4 linked regions of the Homo sapiens genome follow. The protein of the gene in region 1 purifies or fractionates together with the protein of each later gene. This does not show direct contact. Each region holds a gene or a part of one and is shown in the gene's direction. Other genes may lie near its edges. The genes, in order: SELE, MTMR1, DIP2A and DIP2B.

Region 1 (7,683 bases):
GGTTAAAGTCTTTGATGCCTGATTAAAGGGTGTGGAGGAGAGGACAAGAGACTTCCAGGAAGAGACAATAAAGCCAGGAAGGGTGACACCTCAGAGATTAAATAGCACTGGTGGCAGACACCGGGGTGTGCCTGAGTTTGCACCGTCTTCTTTCCTCTTTTCATTCCCATCTATGTAGCGGATGCTTCCCCCATGCGAGAAACTGCCAAGAGGGTCCATGTGAGGCGAGGCTTGAAAACCGGCAATCCGGTAACAGCTAGCTACATCTTCAGAGCTTGGGAGATTCAGTGGAGCCTTGAAGCACCTCTAATCAGCCTGTTTCTTGGGGGTATATTTTGGATTATTTGAAGAGGGAGATGATATTCATAATATTCAACATGCCCAACTATTCAAATCTTACCCAATTTCCTCTTCAACTCCCCCTGATTTGCCCCCACCCTCAAAAAACAAGCAATTGCCTCTTATGAAATCCTGATAGGAAAAAGCAGGTGAAGAAGCTATAGTCTGGTTGTAATCCCACTCCCACGCAGCGCTGGCCCAGGGCCTCTCCACGAGAGGAAAGCTGGGTCTGTCTATGGCCCCTTCAGCAGCCCAGGTAGCCAGAGGGGAGCCCATCAGCTCCCAGTATCCATGTACCTGATTTGCAGTGACAACCTCGGGGGCAGGGACACAGAAAATACTGTGGGAGAATGCAGGTAATTGTAAGGATGAATGGATTTTGAATAACATACCTCTGGTTAAAACAAGTACATATATTATATACATATAAATTATATACATACATGTACATATTGTAAACCAAAAAGTAACTGAAGCATATCTCAACAGATTAGAGGTTTATTTTGTCCCAGGTAAAAGAAACACAAATCACTGTAGGATCTGTGACCTGCGCTTTTTCCAAAGAGAGTTTTGGGAACTTCCATCTTTAGAGGGGAAAGAGCAAGCAGGAGGGGAAGAAAATAAACGAAAGATGGGTTGGCAATGAGACAAGTGTTTACATTGTGGCAAGGCTCTGTAACACTCAGTGAGTCTACACTTTACATGTAAAAAGAAGGGACTAGAGGGAAATTATGCATGGATCTCATGCTCAGTACATCTACATTTTATATAAGATAAAGTAAGCATGTGAAATTACAGGTATTTGGGAACAAAAGGAAGGCAGTTTTTGCATGACTCATTTCCCAAGCTTAACTTTCCCTTTGGCATAGTGAATTTGAGGTCTCAAGATTCTATTCTTCTTTCACAGTATTTTACATATATTTATATATAATATATATAAAAATATCTATATTTATATATAAAATATAAAAATATCTATATTTATATATAAAATATAAAAATATCTATATATATAAAATATATAAATATATATAAATAATATATATATTCCACATATATAATATATTGTAATTATATATATATACTCTACATATATTATATATTATATATAGTCTACATTTAAGTTACTGTTACTCACCTATCTCTTCCACTCCTCATTTCTCTTATCCTTCGAATATTGGGATCTCTCCCTGAAGCTTTCTCAATTTAGAAATAATCAGTTTAGAATTTAGAATAATCAGTTTGCCCTTTGACCTTAGAGAAAATTTGCTTTTGAATCAGGAACTTCTGGGAACTGTGGCTTAGGGATCAACTTTACCTAGGCATGGCTCCACCTGCCTTGCTTGTTTTTTCCTTTGTCCACTTTCTCCCTGCCTATGCACCGGGGATCCAGGGTCTGTTCTCACTGCATCCTCTCCCTACTGCTCACTGTCCCTGGGGTCCCTTCCAGCCCCCATGTCTCAGAACCCAGGACACAGTTATCTCAGTGGAGAGCTGTGATGGTCAAGGATGTCTCAGGAAGAAGAGGGCAAGAAGAGTACAGGAAACTTGGGTAGAACAAGGAATCTCGGGGCATAACAACAAAAGAAATCATGGTTTGGAGTAGCAGGTAAGGGAGTGGGCTCTGGATATCAACTGCCTGGTTTCAACCCTTAGCTCTGTGCTTTTGAATGAGATAAAATCCCCAGATTCTCAATTTCCTCATCTGTAAAATGGGGATAATAGGAGTACCTATTTCATAGGCTGTTGTACGGATTGAATAATCAATAGGTGAACATACAAAATGCTCAGAATATGGCCTGGCACATAGTAAGCACTCAATAAATGTTAGAGATTATAATTGGGGGTCCAGGACATATATATGTAAGTAAAATAGAAACTTCATCACCACTGGGGCTATTTTTAGATATCTTTGAACTAATTTTAAAAAGGGGAAGAGATAAACTATAAACTTAGTTATGAAAAATTCGCAATAATAAAGTTAGTTATCTAGGGATGTTAACGACTAATTTCTATTAGCAATATAATTATTAGGTACTTTATTGATATCGAAGATAAATTGTTTTTTAAGATTTGGCTACTCTATACATTTGACCATGCTTTTTAAAAATAGCAGATTATGTATTCATACTTTATTAAAAATAAAATACATACAGATAATGTATTAACCCAACTTGACATTCTGCCCTAAAATCTAAATAAACACTATATGAGTGATTACTCTTCTGAATTTATTGAAGCAACAACCACATTGAGCTAAGTAAAGTGGGATAAAGAATTGGAATAATGTCAGTATCTGGATCATGTAAGAGAGTGGTAAGGTGGAGGGAATAAATTCTATGCTTTTTGATAGGGGTTGAATTAAATTCGTTAATTAAGTTATTTTTTTCTAATCAGTTGTCTTTTTTGGAATTTTTCTTCTCTTTTCTTGTTTTTTTTTTGGGTCTTGACATCTTTATGAACACAGAAAGACCAGTGCTAACAAGTAAAGAGAAAAACGAGGCTTTTACCACTACTCGTTCAGGTCTGCTGACAGTACATTTTTAGATAGACCTCCTATTTTGAAAGGCTGTAGATATAGAATATTAGCTTGACTTGAGCTCTGAAAACCTACAGAATATGGAAATTAAAATGATCCCCATTTACTGTTACCATCATTTAGATAGGGTAAGATGCAGAGATGGGGAATGTATACAATCACCCAGAAGAAATGTCAAAATGAAGAGCAGGAATATAGGATACCACATACATCTCCTTCTGTTGCATTTGGAAACAAATTTCTTTTCTTTTCTTTTTCTTTTTTTCTTTTTTTTTGAGATGGAGTCTTGCTCTGTCGCCCAGGCTGGAGTGCAATGGTGTGATTTCAGCTCACTGCAACCTCTGCCTCCTGGGTTCAAGCGATTCTCTTGCATCAGGCTCCCCAGTAGCTGGGATTACAGGCATGCGCCACTACACCCCGGCTAATTTTTGTATTTTTAGTAGAGACAGGGTTTCACCATATTGGCCACGCTGGTCTGGAACTCCTGACCTCAGGTGATCCACCCACCTCAGCCTCCCAAAGTGCTGGGATTACAGGCATGAGCCATCATGCCTGGCCTAGAGACAAGTTTCTTTAAACTGTATTCTTGTTACTATAAAGGTGAAAAAAAGGGAAATTGAAAAAAACTTTAAAATCCTGAAAATAATAATGAAGGATATAAAAATTATCCCAAATCCTGCCATCCAGAGTTAGTCACTGTTAACATTGTGGAAGAATTTTTATTCTTTGCACATTAACATTTCAAAAATTTTAAACAAAATTTTGACCAATTAAATATATATATATAGTTTTCCGTTTTATTTTTTTTCTTTTCTTTTCTTTTTTTTTTTTTTTTTTTAAGACAGAGTTTCACTCGTTTCCCAGGCTGGAGTGCACTGGCGTGATCTTGGCTCACTGCAACCTCCACTTCCCGGGTTCAAGCGATTCTCCTGCCTCAGCCTCCCGAGTAGCTGGGATTACAGGCATGCGCCACCATGCCCAGCTAATTTTGTATTTTTAGTAGAGATGGCGTTTCTCCATGTTGGTCAGGCTGGTCTTGAACTCCCGGCCTCAGGTGATCCGCCTGCCTCGGCCTCCCAAAGTGGTGGGATTACAGGCGTGAGCCACTGTGCCTGGCCTCCTTTTTATTTTTTTCACTGAACAAACCATGAAACTTTCCCAGATGTAAATATCTATTTCCCATTTTTCTTTTTTTAAAATAAGGCATTATTTTAACCATTTGAGTGTTAGATATTATTTTTAGATAATATTTTAATTTAGGCATAACTGCCGTGCAAAATCTGAAGATTAATATCTACCTTGTGAGTCATTCCTCTGTGAGACAGTGCATGTTAAATATGTTGAATTGGCAGGTGAAAAAGGAAGAAAAAATGAGTAGTGATTGGTTATCCACAGCTATGAATGAGAAATTGAAGGTAGTAGACTATGGATGACAAACCTATTCTTGGTTTCCTTCTGTTTCTGAAATTCTAATTACTACCACAACTACATGAGAGACACTACTAACAAGCAAAGTTTTACAACTTTTTAAAGACATAGACTTTATGTTATTATAATTAAAAATCATGCATTTTTGTCATATTAATAAAATTGCATATACGATATAAAGGCATGGACAAAGGTGAAGTAGCTTCAAGAGACAGAGTTTCTGACATCATTGTAATTTTAAGCATCGTGGATATTCCCGGGAAAGTTTTTGGATGCCATTGGGGATTTCCTCTTTACTGGATGTGGACAATATCCTCCTATTATTCACAGGAAGCAATCCCTCCTATAAAAGGGCCTCAGCCGAAGTAGTGTTCAGCTGTTCTTGGCTGACTTCACATCAAAACTCCTATACTGACCTGAGACAGAGGCAGCAGTGATACCCACCTGAGAGATCCTGTGTTTGAACAACTGCTTCCCAAAACGGTAAGTGCAGAACGCTTTATAAGGGCAGCCTCGGGCCATGAAACACAGATATGCAAAAGGCCTTCTAATAAAAACCACATCTGTACAAGCTCTTATTGTATTGTAGCTAAAACCTGTCTTTTCTCTTTGACCTAAATAATGAAAGTCTTAAAATTTGTTTATTTATTTGATTAAACTCTGAAATAAAGATTATTGCACTAGTGTCCTTTGCCCAAAATCTTAGGATGCTGCCTTAAACATCATGGTAGAATAATGTAACTAGCTACCCACGATTTCCTTCTTTAATTCATTTTGTGTTTTATCTCCCCAGGAAAGTATTTCAAGCCTAAACCTTTGGGTGAAAAGAACTCTTGAAGTCATGATTGCTTCACAGTTTCTCTCAGCTCTCACTTTGGGTAAGTCAGTGCCATTAGACCAAGATTTCTCATTCTCGCACTATAGATATTTCAGACTGAAATATCCTTGCTTGTCTGGGGCTGTCCTGCACAGGATATCTGGCAGCATCCTTGACCTCTACCTGCAATGTGTTCTTCCCTGGGCTTGGGGTCATTTACTTTACCTCTTGGTGTCTCCCTTTCCTTAAGTGTAAAGTGTGGATCATAATGACCTATTTCCCAGATGCATTGTGAGGATTCAATAGCATGGTTCATGGAAAGTACCTCATACAGTGCTTCTTGGTGCATACTAAGTGCTCAATAAAGCTTAGTTATTCTGATTATTATTCTACTACAAAATGGGTATACTATAATGTTGTGAGTGAGTGTGGATAAGGTACCTAGTGGGTGGCAGTCACAAAAGAGATAAACAATAAGTCGCTGTTTCTTCATACGTACTTCTTACTTTTGAAAAGATGAGAAAAGTCTGGGCCATGTCACAAACATTGCCAAAAATAAGACAATAAAAAGCACAGTTGTCAGAGTTAAACCACAACAGTACCAAACTCTACCATTTCTTTTCTTTTTCTCCCACTAGTGCTTCTCATTAAAGAGAGTGGAGCCTGGTCTTACAACACCTCCACGGAAGCTATGACTTATGATGAGGCCAGTGCTTATTGTCAGCAAAGGTACACACACCTGGTTGCAATTCAAAACAAAGAAGAGATTGAGTACCTAAACTCCATATTGAGCTATTCACCAAGTTATTACTGGATTGGAATCAGAAAAGTCAACAATGTGTGGGTCTGGGTAGGAACCCAGAAACCTCTGACAGAAGAAGCCAAGAACTGGGCTCCAGGTGAACCCAACAATAGGCAAAAAGATGAGGACTGCGTGGAGATCTACATCAAGAGAGAAAAAGATGTGGGCATGTGGAATGATGAGAGGTGCAGCAAGAAGAAGCTTGCCCTATGCTACACAGGTAGGGAGTTTGCGGCAGCAGTGGGAGGTAGTTTCAGTGTGTGGGCATCTTGGCAAATTTACAGCATGCAAAAACTGCTCTCTATTGTGGTCATTTTATGTTCCAAAAGATTCTGTTTAACTGCTAAAGTTTCTCTCTTTTGCTGTTTTGTGTGAATGTGGGCAAGAATATGTGGATATGTATATATATACACACACACACATATATACACACACACATATATGTGTGTGTGTATATATATATAGCCTACAGCATTTATATACATTTTATATATATACATACACACATATACACACATATATGTGTGTATGTATATATATAAAATATATATAAATACTGTAGGCAAATATGTAGTTCTTTACATATAAAAATGCACACACACAATACATATTTTAATTACTTGTTTATTTGTGGTAGGGGAACTGTCTTCAGAGTTTGTGAAGAAGTAAATTTTCTACGGTAGGTGCCAGCCACAGCTATACATTAGCATCAAGGTTTAGGATAGGTGGGCCTGAAACTCAGATTTGGAACTTTGTAAAACACTTCAGTTAAAGTCTATGGCACTCTGTAGGACTGCTGATGTCTCTGTTGCACACTGTTGATTCTAAAATCAAAGGCACTCAGTATAAGCACAGTAATAGTCCTCCTCATCATGCTTTGTATTTTCCGTAGCTGCCTGTACCAATACATCCTGCAGTGGCCACGGTGAATGTGTAGAGACCATCAATAATTACACTTGCAAGTGTGACCCTGGCTTCAGTGGACTCAAGTGTGAGCAAAGTAAGTCTGGTTCTTGCCTCTTTCTTCACTTGAGATGGTAGCACCATCTCACGTCCTAGCTGGCATTAGAGTCAGGTCTGCATGCCTTCCCTTCCCTGGTGCAGATGGTGTCATATGGTGATCGTGAGCTGAGACTATGAAGTCAGACCCTGCTGGGTTTGAGTCCTAGATTCACCAGTTATTTATTTTGGCACCTTGACAAGATAGTTTAACTCTCTATGTCAGTTTTCTCATTGTAAAATGAGGATAATAATAGTGTGAACTTCATAGGCTCATGGTTACATGGTGCCTGGCACACAGGACACATTCAATAAACTGTAATTCTGTGTCCCTGCGAGGAACATGTACTCACCTCATCTAGGTGGTAACAAGACGTTGCAGTAGAAATGAGTGAGTTACAGAGTCCAGGGTATCTTGGTTCATGCTCTGGCCTCTGGCTCTGTAATGACTAGCCGTGTAGCATGGAGCAAGTCACTTGAATGAAATGAGGTCTCAGTTCCTAAATTTGTACATTAAGAGAGTTAGATGAGCTTCTCTCCAAGATTCCTTAGCACAGCGTTGTGCAGTAGAGCTTTTGTGATAATGGAAATGTTCCATAGCTGTGTTTTCCAGTGTGTACCTATGAGCCACATGTGGTTATTGAGTACTTGAAATGTGGCTGGTGACACTGAGGAACTGAATTTTAAATGTTATTTGATTTCAACGAATTCAAGTTTAAATTTGAGTAGCCACACAGATAGTGGCTACTATAGTAGACA
Region 2 (7,036 bases), on another chromosome or scaffold:
TCACTTCTCTTCTGAATACTGTAATTAATAATGAGGAAGCTGTGGTCCTGTAAGAGGATGTGTCTTGCCAAAGATCATGGAGTTAGCTGGTGACAGAAGCAGGACTCATGTCCAGGCCTCCTGTCTGCTAACCCACTGTGCTTCACTGTGTGTAACTACATTGGCCAGGATGCTTCTGGTTGCAGGTGACAGAAACCACAGTTCAATCTAGCTTAAGGCAAATGAGATGCCCTGGCTCACAGAACTGCTCCAGACAGGAGGAGAGATGGCCACAGGCACAGTTGAGGTCAGGATTGCAAACAGTGTTGTCGGGACTCCCCATCTCTCTCTCCCTCTCTCTTTTATTTTCCCTCACTTTTTAATCGCTGTGAGTTCCTTAAGATGGTAGGGGTGGGGTGGGGTGGGGAGTGGCCTCCAGCAGCTCTGGATACAGATCCATGTATTTCAGGATCCAAGGGGAAAAGTCTGGGATTGGCTGGTCCTAGGTAACTCACCTACAAGTGGGAGCAGGTGGAGGAAGGGGTCAACCTTCTTCTCCGCTTTCCCCCACAGAAGCCTGTGTTGTGGGGAAGGGCAGTTCCCAAAGTAAAGAGGAAGGTCTTTATCAGAAGAAGGGGGAAGGCATGCCGGGCAGGCAGGTGGTAATAGCAGGTCACACTCATGCTCAGCAGTTGGGTTTCTGCAGTTTCTTCCTGTATTTGCAACTGGTGGGTGCTGACAGAAAAAGGCATTATGACAAGAAAAGTATGATATACGTGGGAATGAAAGTGACTTAACCTTTAAAAAGGAAACAAATCTCTCCCTTTTCTCTCCTTCTCCCCCTCAGGTCGAAATTGTGGTATATAGATTCCTGGCATGTGATAGGAATTTCTGCTCATTCAGTATTTTCAACCATACAGATAACCTCTGGTCTGTTTTGATCAGAGACTGCAATTTGGATCACTAGCACAGAACTTCAGTTTTCTTTCTTTTACTATTTGGGTCATTTTCCATATTGCCTGGGGATTCCAGGTGTTTCTGTCCTTCAGATATGTGAGTGTGGGTTTAATTAGTGATATGATTTTTTTTTTAAAGGCCTGAAACATTCTTTACAGTGAAAGCTACCTGCAAGGTAAACTTTTGTCGGTGTTTTTAGCCCTCTAGCTTGATTTCTTAGTGTTTTGCCAAATTGTGAGAGGAACCCGGCCTCTGGGGGCAATTGTTAAATCTCTTACTGCGCTAGTTGGCTTATGTGGTCTTTCAGGTCAGGTGAGTACAGCCTGACCACTTGCCAGTCGTGTGACCTTGGGCAAAACTGGACCTTAATTTTTTCATCTGTAAAATGGGTCACTGTGAGGCTGGGCAAGGCTACGTGTGTGAAAATGCTTTGATGCCTCAGAGCTCTGTGGGAGTGAAAGATGACATTTTCTTTGCATTGCTGTGTTTTCATGTAAAGCGGTTGGCTCGCATCTGTGCTGCTGGCTTCAGTGCAGTGAGTCAGTCGCTATTGGTTGTTCCATGTCCTGTTGAGGACAGCCACTTTCTCACAGGGCATGTCACCTCTGTGCCTCGATTTTCTCTCCTCAAAGACAAGTCGGCTAGTCCCTGTTCTGCCTTCTCATCACACCATGGTTGTGAGGCTCTGATATAATAAAAACCATTTGTGCTTGTAATCCCAGCACTTTGGGAGGCCAAGGCGGGTGGATCACCTGAGGTCAGGAGTTCAAGACCAGCCTGGCCAACATGGTGAAAACCCGTCTCTACTAAAAATACAAAAATTAGCCAGGCATGGTGGCATGCGCCTAAATAATCCTAGCTACTAGGGAGGCTGAGGCAGGAGAATTGCTTGAACCCAGAAGGGCAAAGTTTGCAGTGAGCCGAGATCGCGCCACTGCACTCCAGCCTGGGTGACAGAGCAAGACTCTGTCTCAAAAAAAAAAATAAATAAAAAATAAAAACCATTTGTAAGTTGTCAAAGCACTTATAGAAGTGTAAGGTATTGTTAGTACTACACAGAGAACATCATTTTTCTAGGCTGTAATTTATAAATCTCATGTTCAGCTTTACTTTTCTGAGTCACTTTGCTTCACTCAAAAGTACACTATTTTCTAGATTTAAAACTACCAACATGAAATTGATTGAATGTTTGAAAAGCCTATGCTGTAAGATAAATATTTCACATATTTCTCCCGGCTGGGTGTGGTGGCTCATGCCTGTAATCCTAGCACTTTGGGAGGCTAAGGCGGGTGGGTCACTCGAGCCCAGGAATTCGAGACTAGCCTGGGAAACATGGCAAAACCCTGTCTACACGCGCGCGCACACACACACACACACACACACACACACACACACACACACACACAAAAGCCGGGCCTGGTGGCATGTGCCTGTAGTCCCAGCTACATAGGAGGCTGAGGTGGGAGGATCACTTGAACCTGGGAGGTTGCAGTGAGCTGAGATTGCACCACTGCACTCCAGCCTGGGTGACAGAGTGAGACCCCATCTCACAAAAAAAAAAAGAAGTATTTCTTCCATATAATTTTAATAGAGTAAAATTCCATTAAATGGTAGAGAATAGTAAGCTTAACTAACACCTAGAATCTTCAACTTTGTTTGAGAAAATTGGGTGATTCATTTAAAATTAACCTGGAATCTAATCTTATTTCCTAGTTGTCAGTCGCTATTTCAGTTCTTACATAAAATGTGAAGGTAACCAAAGAGTCTAGTTAGTTCATCTAAAAAAAGAAGTGTTATCATATTCCTATTCAGTGCTAATTTTTTCACTGAGATCCTATGATATAACGTTTTGTAATCCATGCTATTTTTTTTAGTCCCACAGGATCACATGTTGAATGGTGTAAACAGCTTATAGCTGCTACAATTTCTAGTCAGATTTCAGGTTCAGTGACATCAGAAAATGTGTCCAGAGATTACAAGGTAAGCAACATTGAGTGTTTAATTCATTTTCAGTATGCTAAGTAGCCAAGAAGCTTTGCAGTTTTAATTCAAGTGAGCTGTTGGCCTTTTGATGCAACATGGCCATTTGCTCGAGAATAAGGATGAAAGGTTCTCTGTTGTTAGATCTGAAATGTAGAAGAGAAATTTTACCAGTATCCAGTACATGTAGTCATAGTTTTGTAATTGAAAGGAGAAGCTGTCTTTAGATGACAATGATTCTTTTAAAAATCAAGTTCCATTTTATAATAATAAATGCATATAGCTTCTTTGTTAGTATTGTGAGTTTCAGGAAATATCTTGATGTACAATACTTCCCTAACTTCACAATTTTTTAATTTATGTATTATCTGTGAGTATTCAGCATTAACATGTGATACTAGAATGTATAAAAACCCTTCCAGAATCTCAAAAGAGTATTGTATGGGCAGCCTCATTTTTCAGTCCTTACTGAAGTGAAAATCTCTTTTTGTTCATTTTAAAAGTTAGATTCCCTGCTTATTCTAAATTTAAGTGATAAGCTCCTTGTCAGCAGAGACTAGGGCAGTTTTACCACTGGCTTCCCAGGCACAATCCTGGAGCATAACAGTTGCTCAATAAATATTGAATCAATTAACAAATCAAAAAAATCGCTTGTTCCATCTTTGTTAAGGCTAAAGACTAACTTTGTTTTAATGTCAATAAACTATTAATAGGTATATTAAATGAAATCACATTTATATTTCAGTACTGATGTTTGCCTAAGTTGAGGTTTCTGTTTATTAGTGGTCATTTTTCCTGCTAGTAAGAGATGATTGATTTTTCACAAGTGTGTGTAAAATGCATTTGGTATCCCAGACTACCATTAGTTAATAGTCTCTCAATATCATGGTCCTTGCCAGACATCAAATCTTACAAATATCAAGAATTACAGTAAAGATCCTAATTAATTCTTAATAGGTACTCCTTGTTTAGGAGCTTTATCTTCAGTTCCTCTTTAGAGCTCATAGGGTAATAACAAGTGCAGAAACAGGCTCAGGAGGCCAATTAATTGAGATTTGGCTATGGTGCTGTCTCTTGCCTCATCCAAACTGGCAGATGCTGTTGATTATGCCTACCAAAGGAAGGCATAGCTGTGGATTAGCAGAAATTGGATAATCTGCCCAGCTAGAAGAGTGACAGTGTATTTCTTAATCATTTTTCCTGCTATGTGGTGTTCATGTTTGCCCATAAAAGAGCAGCTGGGGCTCCTGGACCTTAAAACCTGGTCGGGCAAACACACTGTCTCCAGGTGGGAGAAGCATTTGCTGCATCACTGATGCGTGAATGGCTGGTCACTGAGCAGCTGCGGATCGCATCAGTTCCAGTTGCCCTATTGCCTGCACCTTAGCTGAGAAACTGCCCGCTGAGTAGAGAGACTTAAGAACCCATTTTAGCAGAGAATAGCTCTCACACTTCGGGGTGATTTTCTTTATGGACAATTATGAGTTAACTGTAATGTTTTCATTAAGGTTGAATAGTTGTTAGTGTTGTGTGTGTCCTATAAAAGATTGAATGTCGACTGTGTGCATAGCTTTCTAACATTGCATGAATAGATCAGACTGAATCTGTACTTTAACATGAAGCAACTAAGTTTTTTCAATCTCAGTCTATTTACAAATTTTGTGTAGCTGAATTAGCTCATGTTGGAATGGTTGAACAGATGGTATTCAGAAAAAATAAGGCTTTCTTTCTTTTGGAAATTAAATTTTAAGTTCCTACATCAGATCATAGCTAAAGTCTTTGATGAATTATTGTAAGGGGGCATGTTTTATAATTGTCTTTGTTATATTTGCCCTGCAGCCAAATCTGAAAAGTTGGTGTTAAATTTATAACTCAGGGGTTGTTACACTTTCTTCAAGGAGAGTTTTTTTTTTTACATAATAAATACATAAAATATTTCTAAACCACAAGGATAATTGTACATGTTCCCTATAAAGTAGTTCTTAAAATCAGGGTAACCAAAATGGGCCTTTGGGACCCCTCTGGCATGGGAGCTATTGCATGGGGTTGACCCTGAAGAGCCAGATAAAGTTCCTTGAGGATTTAAGTTGCAGTCATCAGCTGATATTTGAAATTATCTGTTGTGTAAATGTCTTATTTGAAATACACACTTAATTTGGGGGCTAATTTATTATAGATTAAACTCAACATCAGTAATTAAATGGGAGCAGATGTTTATGTGGAGCAGAATGCTTGGCATCTTATTTGAAATGCTGATTGTCTTCTGAGTTGTAACAGGCTGTCGAGAATGGTTCTATGTCATCATCATCATCATCATCATCAACCCTCTAACACATACAGGCTCTGGGGTTTTGTAATGCTTTTTGACATGTCATCCATTTAAGCCTTAAAACAACCTAGTGAATCTGGGTGTGGTGGTCTGTAGTCTCAGCTACTTGGAAGGCTAAGATGGGAGGATCACTTGAGTCCAGGAGTTCAAGGCTGCAGTGTGCTGTGGTCACACTTGTGAAAAGCCAATGCACTCTAGCCTAGACAACATAGAGAGATCTTGCTTCTTTAAAAAAGTCCATTGAGGTAGCTATTACTACAATCATCATTTAATGGATGAGGAAACCGAGGCCTAGAGAGATGAAATGACTTGCTTAGGGTCATACAGTTAGACTTGGGATTTGAACTCAAGTCATCCTATTGAAAAGCTAGAGTGATTTTAAGATTTTGTCCCACCCCCATTCCCATCCACTGCTTTTCGATCTTTTTTTTTCTTCTTTTTCTTCTTCTTCTTTCTTTCTTTTTTTTTTTTTTATAGAGATGGGGTCTTACTACGTTTCCCAGGCTGGTCTTGAACTCCTGGGCTCGAGCGATCCTCCCATCTCGGCCTCCCAAAATGCTGGGATTAGAGGTGTGAGCCACCATACCCAGCCTCATCCACTGTTTTTCAAAATGTGACCCTTGGGTCTTCCCAAGACAGCATTCTCTGGAGCACCTGTAAAAATGCAGCTTCCCGGGCTCCATCCCAGATTTACTGAATCAGAGTGTCTGAGGGAGGGAAACAAGTGTCTCATATATTTCTTATGCATGATAAAATCTGAAAACCTAGGCTTCCTGAGTTTCTGTCTGTTGAAATTGGTGATGGGACCCTGCATTTCTGGTATATTACTAAGAATCTGAATAATTAGCAACTCAGATATTGGAGAATAATTATTTTATTATTTACTCATATCATAAATTGTCAGTCAGCCCAGGGTCAGCTCATCTAAAGTACAGTAAGAATATCGCTGGTATCACGTGACATGAGTTTAGATGGTATGTCCATGGACGTATTTTAGTAGCTATGTAATTATTTTCTTGTGTATTAGAAAAATCAGCACATCAGGCTTGTGATTTAGTAGATGTTATGGCTTAGAGCAGGCAAAGTATTAAAAAGGAATGGATTTTAAATCAATATAAAGATAAATACAAAATTAGTATGGGCAGTTGGCAGATACAGCAAGCCAAACTTGTTGAGGTGGTATGTGAAATGGCAAGTTTGGCAAGCATTGTCCCAGCTGAAAGAGTAGATAGCTATTATACTGAATTGTGTGGCAGCTAAATTAATAAATGCCTGATTTAATACCGAGTCATCCTGAAGATTGGCCTGTTAATTAAGACTATTACACAAAATGTAATAAAATATTTGTTTTGCTTGTCCCCCCTCCACTACCAACTCAATTGCTTTCATTTTTACTAGGCTAACAAATGGTAAAAAATTTCTCTTGAATTTGCCAGAAATTTTAAGAACAAAATTTGAATGTAATCTTCTGTAGATTAGATGAAATAATACAGTTACAAATGGAAACATTTTTAGGAACTATTAGTAGAAGTGACATCATTGATCACAGCTTCCATTGTTTGGAAAGTAGGACTAGGTTATGAAAAGAGAACATGATGGAGTAGTACAAACAATATTGGTTAGCTTGTGACCTTGTATAGTCTCTGAGGCTCAGTTTCCTTTTCTGGAAGGATAAAGGGGCTTGGATTAGATTATTCACCTCTAAATGCCTTTCTTGCTAGAACATTATTCAATTGTGTTCAAAAGAATTTGATCTGGGCCAGCTTTATGAAAATTAGGACACTATAGTTT
Region 3 (7,036 bases), on another chromosome or scaffold:
CATTGACCAAGGTAAAATCAGCTTATGGTGTGAACCTCAGTATCAATACAGTGGAGTGATGTAACCTGGAGTGCTGGGGAGGGGGCTTTGAATGGAACTGGGTAGCAGGGGCTATGAAGAATGATGCCCAGTGGCTCAAGGCAGGAAAGGAGGCCAGTGTGGTGGGGGCCAGGTGGTCCCAGGTAGGGGATGCAGATAAGGCTGGGGGTCGCTGGGTTTTCCCTAAGGATGCAGTGGGATCCCAGACCTTGCGGGCTTTGAGTCCCAGTCCAGATCTCAGGTTCTGTCCTGATGGGGCCCTGACTCATATGGACTGGCAAAGCTTCCGGGATTTGGAATCTCAGGATCTGCCCAGCCCTTGTGCCTGGACACAGCACATAAGTGCGTCCACTGGTCTCTCTCTTCCACTGCCTTCTGTCAGTAGAAGCCACCAATCGAGAAACAGGGAGTTTTGATGTTACACTGGTCTGCTCTGGAGTTTTATATTTATTAGACTGAATTGCACTTTTTATCTTCTTAAGAAGGACTAAAAAAGCTGCGAGGCCTGGCAGGGGATCAGGGAGGATGAGTGTCCTGAGCAGAGAGGTAGGGTTACCAGGTATTTCTGTTTGCCTTGAACTGGTCACATAGCCCCAGTGCCCCTCAGCAGAGAGACAGGGTGAATGAAGGAGCTGGTGTAGTCAGTCCTAGAGGAGACACACAGATGCCTCTGAGAAAGCCGGTTGCAGATGACACACGCCCAGGCTCAGTGCAGGTGACCTGTGGGCATGGAAAGTAGTACAATTCAGGGATGTTTGCTTATCGCTTATTATGTATTTATAATGGTGTCGTATGGAATATTTTATTGAAAAGGCCAGAAAGGTCTTCTTTACCCACGTGTTTCTGGCTCTGCCCTGGGTGAATGGAGTGCCCGCATCTCTCCCTCTTAGCTGGGACCACACAGGAGATACTTGCATGCCTGTCCCTTCACTGCTAGTGAGAGAGTACAGATGGTGAGAAAAGACACCAGTCGTGGACCATGTGCGGTGGCTTATGCCTGTAATCCCAGCACTTTGAGAGGCTGAGGCGGGCAGATCACTTGAGGTCAGGAGTTCGAGACCAGCCTGGCCAACATGGTGAAACCCCATCTCTACCAAAAAAAAGACACCAGCCGTACGTCTAGGACTGACACATTGTCATTATCATGGACGCTAATCACAAGGTGTCGTGTGCAGTGGCGTGCAGGTGGTGTGCACGCAGATCTGCGAACAGCCCACCTGCACGCACCAGCATACAGATGAGCTCAAAGATCGCTTTCCTAGGGCACCGTCACAAGCACTGCAACCTGTGTCCAGCTGCACAAAAGGGCTGAGAGAGTGGCCGCGGCTCTGATGGAGAAGGGAAGACTGAGTGTTGGGGACCATGTGGCTCTGGTCTACCCACCAGGTGGGCTCACTGTGGGGCTGTCCACCTGCAGCTCTTTGTAAGCAGCCTCCTATCCTAAGCAGCCCCCTAGACACTCCCTCCCCGAAGCATCTTCCAAAACTAAGCTCAGCCCCTCCTCTCTGCATGTGTCTGCCTCCTCAGCTCAGCTACCCCTGTGGAAACCCAGGAGTCACCCATGCCCCCCCAGCACCACCTCCCCTCCTCTCTCGCAGGAACAGTGAACAGAGGCTGGTGGGAGCCTCTTGCGGCCGGCCTCCTCACAGCCAGTCCTTGTCTCCACAGGGGTGGACCTCATTGCCGCGTTCTATGGCTGCTTGTACTGTGGCTGCGTGCCTGTCACCGTGCGGCCCCCGCACCCTCAGAACCTCGGCACCACACTGCCCACCGTCAAGATGATCGTGGAGGTGCGCCTACCTGGCCCGCGGGTCAGAGTCTGTGAGTGGGAGGCTGCAAGGCTGCCCTCCGCTGCCCCCTTTTCTGGGCAGCTTGAGAGGCCCCGCCCACCCACCCTTGGCCCCTCGCCATGCAGGTCAGCAAGTCTGCATGCGTCCTCACCACGCAGGCTGTCACACGGCTGCTCAGGTCCAAGGAGGCTGCTGCTGCCGTGGACATCAGGACCTGGCCCACCATCCTAGACACAGGTGCGTGTCCTCGCACTGCCCAGGACCAGTCCCTTTTCCTTTCTTTGTTGTAGGTGTGGTGTGGCCTGGCTGCCGTCCAAAAACACACGTGAGGCAAGAGCAGTCCTGGCAGGAGCCTGGCTGACAGCAGGGGGTGCCCCGGGCCCTGGTGGGGAGTAGGGGTCCCTGTCCCATGTGTAAACCCACGCTCCACTCAGCCCACAGCAGCCGCACCCAGTCCCAAGTGGTGTGGAGCACAGCCTTGCCCCTCTCACCCGCCTCCTACTGGCATGGGGGCTGGCAGCTCTCTGAGGCTTTCTGCAAACGCTTTGAGGACACAGCTCCCACCGCATGCCGCCACTCCAGCATCCCTGTCCCCATCATTGGTGAATGCTGTCATGCCCCATGAAATGCTGAGGGCCAACAGGGTGAGGGTCAGAAACCCCCCTGGCTCCCCTCTGCCGTGGACCTGTCTCAGCCTGGGCTGGATGGGGCTGGGCCAGGGCAGCTGGTGTAGGGGAGGGCAGGCTCAGAGCCAAACAGCTGGCCAGGGCCCCAAAGCCTCACGGGCTTGCCTCAAGGGGAGCGGTGCCTGCCCTGCTGAGCCTGTGTCCAGTTGCACCCAGGGAGGCAGTGGTGTCTGGCTCATGGGGCCACGAGAACTTGATGAAGCACGCAGAACCCAGAGCCCGTCCACAGCTATTCTTGCTGTGGTCGGGACTCGGCTCATCTGGGCTTTGCCATAGGCTCTGTGACTTTTGGCAAATCCCTAGTCCTCTAATCTTTCCTACTGGTCAGTGACGTGATGCCTCCCCTCTTCGCCCTGCCTCGTCCCCCATCCCCACAGGCTCAGTGTGGTCTTGGTGGGACCGGGTAGCGTTTCCATGAAGAATGAAATACGCTTTCCTGAGCACGCACAGCCTGCATCGTCACGGCCCCACTCCCGTCTGAGCTCACTCTCTGCAGGACTCCCAAGGACAAATCATGTGTCGCCTCTTGCCTGTGAAAGCCCAGAGCGTTCAGAATACATGTGGGAACACTAATGTTGCTGGTGTCTCCTGTTTAACAGATGACATCCCAAAAAAGAAGATAGCAAGCGTTTTCAGGCCCCCCTCCCCCGATGTCCTCGCATACTTGGACTTCAGCGTGTCAACCACTGGGATATTAGCGGGAGTGAAGGTAGGTCCTCTGAAATCTTGTTTGCTTCAGCCCCTAGAAATCAGGAGGAGTGGACAGAAAGGATGTCAGATGCAGATTTAAACTGACAGGTCCTTCTTATGCAAAGCACAAAGCAACAATTTTGCTTCTTAAGATTTGTGTTAAATACCAATAAATGCTAAGATGTGATTAGCCTGAGAGTAATGCGTTTTCTGATGCATTATGGTTATGTCTAAACTTTCTGATTTATGACTGTCTAGCTTACAGGAACTGGTGGCTTTGAAGAATCTCTTACCTTGCTGGGAGTCAATAGCTCAATTAAAATTTTTCAGGCGGGGCGTGGTGGCTCACGCCTGTAATCCCAGCACTTCGGGAGGCCGAGGCGGGTGGATCACAAGATCAAGAGATGGAGACCATCCTGGCCAACGTGGTGAAACCCCGTCTCTACTAAAAATACAAAAAATTAGCTGGGCATGGTGGCAGGTGCCTCTAATCCCAGATACTCAGGAGGCTGAGGCAGGAGAATTGCTTGAACCCGGGAGGCAGAGGTTGCAGTGAGCCGAGATTGTGCCATTGCACTCCAGCCTGGGCGACAGAGCAAGACTCTGCCTCAAAAAAAAAAAAAAGAAAAAAATTTTAAAAATTCATTACCCTGAAATTTTGTTTCAAAGATTTTTAGTGTACCATTTCTTGGGTATTATTTAGGTTATATGGGGATTTGAGCCAACCGTCTTTTAAGGAAATAAATATGATGTTTGGTAGTTCGGAGCTATGGTCTAGCCATGTGAACAGCGGACACTGCCATCCACCCTCTCCCCTCCTGAATTTCATTTCACTTTTTTTTTTTGAACTTTATTTTACTCTTAAGATGTCGCACGCGGCCACAAGCGCCTTATGCCGCTCCATAAAGCTGCAGTGTGAGCTGTACCCCTCGCGGCAGATCGCCATCTGCCTCGACCCCTACTGTGGCCTTGGTTTTGCCCTGTGGTGTCTGTGCAGGTGAGTGCAGGGCCCCTGCTGCCTGCCAGGTGGGAGCAGCTCGTGTGGCTCTTAGGAACCTTGGCCTTCTAAGGCACCTTTTCTGGGTGCTCAGGAAGCCGATGAGATGTGTGTGAGTGGGTTTGTTTGGGGATGAAGTGGGTTGGAGTCTGAGTCTGAAATTGAGTGAAAATACATTTTTCATTAAATACACTGTCCGTTATCAGTACTTGGGAAGAATCTGCTTGATTCCTTCAAACACTAGAAAGTGGCGATCCGTCTCTAGAAGTGAATGCCTCTGGAGTGGTGTCCCCGGATCCTCTCCAAGTGTTCGGAGCAGAGCTCAGAACCCCGTGCCTGCCATCCCCCAACCTTCACCCTGTGGCATGTTTTCCACCAAACCCCCCCACTTGGCGTCAGAACAGAAATCATGCCCCTGTTGTGGCTGGAAAAGAAGTGTTCTTGAGGAAGGGAAGAGTGGAGTGCCCAGGGTGCTGGGTGGGCGGGCGGAGCCTCACGAGCCTTCCCTCTCGCAGTGTCTACTCGGGACACCAATCAGTGCTGGTGCCCCCGCTGGAGCTGGAGAGCAACGTGTCCCTGTGGCTGTCGGCCGTCAGCCAGTACAAGGCCCGCGTCACCTTCTGCTCCTACTCTGTGATGGAGATGTGCACCAAGGGCCTAGGCGCACAGACGGGTGTCCTCAGGGTGAGTGCCCAGACCCGGGCTTCTGAGTGTGCTGCAGACCACAGCCCTGGGAAGTTTAAAAACAACAAAACAAAACAAGACTCCCAAGGCCCCTCCCTGCAGTTGGAGGAAGTAGAGAAAACCCTTTCCCACTAGGGGCCCTATGTACACATCTGTCCTCCCACGGCCCACCTGTCTCTGCAGCTCCACACCCCGCAGGAGAGGAGGGTGGGGGGTAGGGCAGGGTCCCTGCGAGATAGCGGGGTGGAAGTCTGGCCGCGTGGGAGGGCAGGTGTGGGATGCAGGTCAGATGGGAATCGTTTAGCGCATCCACACGTAGGATTCTGTGGAACAGACACAGCCTGCGGAGAGGAGGTTGGTGTCCAGCTCCACCTCTGTGTGCCCACCCGGAGATTTCCCAAAACAGTGCCCAGGGCCCTGGCAACTCACTGAGCTGTGGCCGTGGCCTGACCGCTCACCCCTCCCGCAGATGAAGGGGGTGAACCTGTCATGTGTGCGCACGTGCATGGTGGTCGCCGAGGAGCGGCCCAGGATTGCGCTGACCCAGTCCTTCTCCAAGCTCTTCAAGGACCTGGGCCTGCCGGCCCGCGCCGTAAGCACCACGTTCGGGTGCAGGGTCAACGTGGCCATCTGCCTCCAGGTGAGGTGCCTGGGGCTGCGGTTCTCGAAAGCTGGCTGTTGGCAGCATGGAGACCCAGTTTCCCAGTTGTTAATGTGCCGTTTTGTAGCCGCCTGATCTATTTCTCCTTCTCTGGGCCTTTGATATCTCATTTCCATGTAACATTTTAGCTTCAAGGGTTTTATTTTTAAAGATGTTCTATTCTAGTTGGAGAAAGGCTTATTTGGAAAAAAAACACATTGTTTTTGAACAGTGACTAATAACTGTAAGACTCTCTAAGTTAGATATAAAACACAGCTAAGTTCTTAAAGCAAGATTGAACTTACTGTTTTAAGATATCTAGCAATATTAAATTGAAACATTAATAAATGTGGTAATTTGTGTTGACTCAAATTCATTTCTGAAACCATGAAATGTCTTATTAAAAGGAAGCACCAAGTTTCAGGCCAGGAGTGGTGGCTCATGCCTATAATCCCAGCACTTTGGGAGGCTGAGGCAGGCGGATTACCTGAGGTCAGGAATTCGAGACCAGCCTGGACAATATGATGAGACCCCGTCTCTACTAAAAATACAAAAATTAGCTGGCTGGTGGTGCGCGCCTGTTGTCCCGGCTACTTGGGAGGTTGAGGCACAAGAATCGCTTGAACCTGGCAAGAGGAGGTTGCAGCGAGCCAAGATCTCACCACTGCACTCCAGCCTGGGTGACAGAGCGAGACCCTGTCTCAAAAAAAAAAAAAAAAAAAAAAAAAAAACATAGGTAGCACCAAGTTTCAGAGATTGAAGAGCTCACGGCAGTTCTGTTTATTGCTTCCTCAGATAGCTACAGCTGTTGCCCAGATTTTGTACTAGTATCTCAATTTCATTTCTTTCTAAAAACATCTTAAAACCAAATGGCTTTTTAGATAACCCTACATATTGAACGCCTTATTCACCCACATAGTACAAGAATAGCTGGAAGGAAATGGCACCTGTCCGTGCCAGAGCAGGGCTGAGTGCAGGTCTGTCTCTGTTTCCAAAGTGTTTGCTTGGCCTTGTGCCTCCCCATCACAGTGGCAGTGCACGCAGGGCAGGGCGGGGGCTCTGCTCACACCCTCTTCACCACAAAAAGACCCCTGACCACTCAAGCCTCAGACCCTTGTCACGCAGCAGAGGAGATCGGGCGGGAGCCTTTTGTGAGCTCGCTTCCTGTGTAGGCTGTGGCTGAGCGTGGGTGCCGGCCTTTGTGTTAGCGGCTCTGCGTCTGCAAGCCTGGGGCCTCCTTGCTAGACGTCGGAAGGGTATGGATGCCACACATGATTGCAGAAATGATGTTAATGGGATGTTCACGTTTGCTCTTTAAGATACAGAGGTGGGTTTTGCTCTCTCTTTCCCTGTGTTTCTCATGTGGCTGCTGCTTCTGTGTGTGTTTCCTGTGGCTGTCTCCTCCCTGTCTCACTCTGCTGCCTCCTTGGCCTCTGTCAGCCCAACAGGCTGGGAAAGCTGGCTGAGCAGGTATGACCTTGACCTTGACCTTGTTGGTGCCTCTGTGCTT
Region 4 (3,209 bases), on another chromosome or scaffold:
GAAGGCAGTGGGGATCCACCATCACATGGAACTGTAAGGCCATATAACTACACAAAACTGACCAATCTGGGTTGCCAAAGCAGCCAGGCTTATGCTGAAACCGGGGAAGTCTGACATATGCAGGAAACTCTTTTGAAATAACTTTGGTGCCCAGGCCAAGTAGAATGAGATGAGACTGAGTTTGGCCTCTGGCTCGGTTTCCTTTCTTTGGTCTGATACTTCATGTATTTGAATATAGTTAAATCGTATTATTTTTTTCTTAACAGAAATATTTTTAAAAATGAAAAAGTACTCAAAAGTGAGAAGAGTTAACTTGTCAAAGCAGAATGGTTCTCTTTGACCCACTCTGGTCTATTGTGTAAATATTTATTTAGACTATTTTAATAATACATATTATTTACCCCACTGTAACATCATGTAAACTAAGTATGTTTTTAAACAATTTTTAAGACTTGTAATTACCCTGAAAATAAGGTTTATAATGCAAAGACCAGCTCCTTTGCGGTGGCAGTGCTCTAGGGCTGCCATTACACGGTCTTGTGATGTGACTAAAAGCCACTTTGTGACTCCCTTCATGTAATCCTCTTTTCCTCCCCACTCCTCCACAGAGGGCAGAGCTCAGGACATTTGCCAGTTCCAGATCTCTTTTTCAGCATTTTCATGGAATTAATTTACACGTAATGAGGGAAGTCCTAGGATGGATAGAAAAAAAGCACTTACATTGGGGCACACAGGAAATCCCAGTGTCTAGCAATGGTTTGGTTTGCAGAGAACACAGCCTGATACTTAATTTTCTTAAAACTATTTTTAATGATCCACTAAACAAAGCAGGGGATCCTGAAGCTGATATAAATAAGTCTAGCTCTATAATCCCCAAGTTCTAAAAGTTATGGTTAGATGCTATTCTGTGGGTTGCTTTGATAATTCTTACTAACACAGATTAGGGTATAGGCATCTAGAGATGCACTGTCCACTGTAAATACTATAATGAGAGCCACATCTGTAATTTAAATGTTTCTAGTAACCACATTTTTTTAAAAGTAAAAAGAAACCCATGGTATTGATTTAAATATATTTTATTTAACCCAATAGCTCAAAAACACTATCATTTCAACATAGGATCAATATAAAAATTATTAATGAGTTATTTTACTTTTTTTCATATTAGGCCTTTGAAATTCAGTGTGTATTAAACACATCTCAATTCAAACCATCACCATATTTCAAGTCTTTGTAGCCAAATGTGACTAGTGGCTACCATATTAGACAGTGCAGATCTATACTCATTCCTTCAAATACATTACTCTGTTAATCTCAAAGTGTGGCCAACTCCCATTTACTTAGAGGCTGATTATCTAGTTTTGTAGTTCCTCAGGCCTCTAATTTATTTTTTGCTTTCTGCTTTATTGATCTTTTGCATGTCCCCCAAAGCCAGAATCTGCTCATGGAGGAAGGAAGGCTAAGAACTGTCCTTGAGGAACTTCATCAGTAACTCTGGTAAAGCATCCTGTGGAGGGAGAGGAGAGCCCAGTCATTTGCTTAGATGGTGTTTGTGGGATCACCTGCAGATTTAAAGCCTACTCTGCCACAGACTCGAGTAAGAAAATGTTCTCTTGATGACACAGTGCTCCTACTCTATCCACATTAAGTAGCACTTTTGTGGTAGAACTGATTCTTAAGGCAGGCCTGAAAGGCCATTACTAATAGAAACACAGCCTTTCCAATCCTCTGGAACATATTCTGTCTGGGTTTTTAATGTCTGTGGAAAAAAACTAAACAAGTCTCTGTCTCAGTTAAGAGAAATCTATTGGTCTGAAGGTTTCTGAACCTCTTTCTGGTTCTCAGCAGAAGTAACTGAAGTAGATCAGGAAGGGGCTGCCTCAGGAAAATTCCTAGATCCTAGGAATTCAGTGAGACCCTGGGAAGGACCAGCATGCTAATCAGTGTCAGTGAATCCACAGTCTTTACTTCCTGCCTCATAAAGGGCCAGGTCTCCCCAGTACCAAGTCCTTTCCTCATGAAGTTGTGTTGCCTCAGGCTGTTTAGGGACCATTGCCTGTCTTGGTCACATGAGTCTGTCTCCTTACTTTAGTCCCTGGGCAATCCTTGCTTAATGCTTTTGTTGACTCAACAAGGGCCCGAGGCCTTAGGTTTTCTATTAAGGTCTCTGCCCCAGGCATGGTGCTCTATATCTTGGCCAAATAAATTACTTTCCTTGAATATCCAGGAATCTTTTAGTCTAAAGCAATGAGGAGTTATCACCTCATCCTCAAACTCCAACAAGATCTATGCCTTAGTGTTGTTTTTGTTGTCTGCTTTGATGTAAAAGCAAGAGTATTTGGAGCAAGAAGCTGCAATGCGCCAAATACACAATAGGCCTTTTCTTTATCATTCATACGACATTTCTGGTTTAGGTGTATGTAGTTGGGCCATGTTACTTGTCCAGAGGAAGAGACTAAAGATATAAGAATAATTTTTTAGTCCTAAATGCTGTTTTGTTTACTTTCTGTCAAGATATTTACCCGTGTCAAATTCAAACTACAGTACTGTGTAATTATGTATAAAGTTTTTTTATTTATTTGAAGTTAGACTAGATATACGTTTTTAAATTTAACATCTGGCTGGACAGTGTTCTATTAACTCATTGAATGTGTTTCCTTTGTCTTGTGTTAATAAATATTGATGCCTGATTCTGTTTAATCCTTCACACATTGGGTGGAGGCTAGGGAATTGATAGATTTTAAATTTAACTTTAGATGGTAAGACCCAGTGATAGCTGGGGTAGTCTAAGGAAAGTGAACACAGAGATCCAGAGTCAGTGCTATTAAAGGATACTAGGTCAGGGAATCAGGGTGTCACTTTGAAAACTAAGGAGCCTGTTGTCAGGACTCTTCAAGGTAATAATTATAGTTTAGTCTTCCTCCCACTCATGTAGCATTTGGTAGTTGTATTTTCTTTTTTAATTTTTTGAGACAGAGTCTCACTCTGTCACCCAGGCTGGAGTGCAGTGGCACAATCTCAGCTCACTGCAGCCTCCGCCTCCTGGGTTCAAGCGATTCTCCCAAAGTAATCCCCAGTAGCTGAGATTACAGGCATGCGCCAACATGCCTAGCTAATTTTTATATTTTTAGTAGAGACAGGGTTTCATCATGTTGGCCAGGCTGGTCTCAAACTCCTGACCTCAAGTGATCTGCCCTTCTCAGCCTCCC

Evidence for each region.
Region 2: the proteins of SELE (region 1) and MTMR1 purify together in Homo sapiens (affinity purification with mass spectrometry; 2 studies listed by BioGRID and IntAct, with this or other methods). This does not show direct contact.
Region 3: the proteins of SELE (region 1) and DIP2A purify together in Homo sapiens (affinity purification with mass spectrometry; 2 studies listed by BioGRID and IntAct, with this or other methods). This does not show direct contact.
Region 4: the proteins of SELE (region 1) and DIP2B purify together in Homo sapiens (affinity purification with mass spectrometry; 2 studies listed by BioGRID and IntAct, with this or other methods). This does not show direct contact.

What each region holds. Positions count from the first base shown.
Region 1 is NC_000001.11:169,731,077-169,738,759, reverse strand, and holds the start of SELE (E-selectin precursor), read left to right. Parts: upstream 1-4,680; 5' UTR 4,681-4,789; intron 4,790-5,099; 5' UTR 5,100-5,147; coding exon 5,148-5,184; intron 5,185-5,761; coding exon 5,762-6,145; intron 6,146-6,817; coding exon 6,818-6,925; intron 6,926-7,683. UniProt on the Homo sapiens protein: Cell-surface glycoprotein having a role in immunoadhesion. Mediates in the adhesion of blood neutrophils in cytokine-activated endothelium through interaction with SELPLG/PSGL1. May have a role in capillary morphogenesis.
Region 2 is NC_000023.11:150,696,385-150,703,420, forward strand, and holds part of MTMR1 (phosphatidylinositol-3-phosphate phosphatase MTMR1), read left to right. Parts: intron 1-2,810; coding exon 2,811-2,916; intron 2,917-7,036. UniProt on the Homo sapiens protein: Lipid phosphatase that specifically dephosphorylates the D-3 position of phosphatidylinositol 3-phosphate, generating phosphatidylinositol. Could also dephosphorylate phosphatidylinositol 3,5-bisphosphate to produce phosphatidylinositol 5-phosphate.
Region 3 is NC_000021.9:46,552,868-46,559,903, forward strand, and holds part of DIP2A (disco-interacting protein 2 homolog A), read left to right. Parts: intron 1-1,301; coding exon 1,302-1,425; intron 1,426-1,707; coding exon 1,708-1,829; intron 1,830-1,954; coding exon 1,955-2,066; intron 2,067-3,114; coding exon 3,115-3,224; intron 3,225-3,535; coding exon of another isoform or gene 3,536-3,562; exon of another isoform or gene 3,563-3,971; intron 3,972-4,071; coding exon 4,072-4,202; intron 4,203-4,717; coding exon 4,718-4,886; intron 4,887-5,355; coding exon 5,356-5,526; intron 5,527-6,966; coding exon of another isoform or gene 6,967-6,996; intron 6,997-7,036. UniProt on the Homo sapiens protein: Catalyzes the de novo synthesis of acetyl-CoA in vitro. Promotes acetylation of CTTN, possibly by providing the acetyl donor, ensuring correct dendritic spine morphology and synaptic transmission.
Region 4 is NC_000012.12:50,745,968-50,749,176, forward strand, and holds the end of DIP2B (disco-interacting protein 2 homolog B), read left to right. Parts: 3' UTR 1-2,690; downstream 2,691-3,209. UniProt on the Homo sapiens protein: Negatively regulates axonal outgrowth and is essential for normal synaptic transmission. Not required for regulation of axon polarity. Promotes acetylation of alpha-tubulin.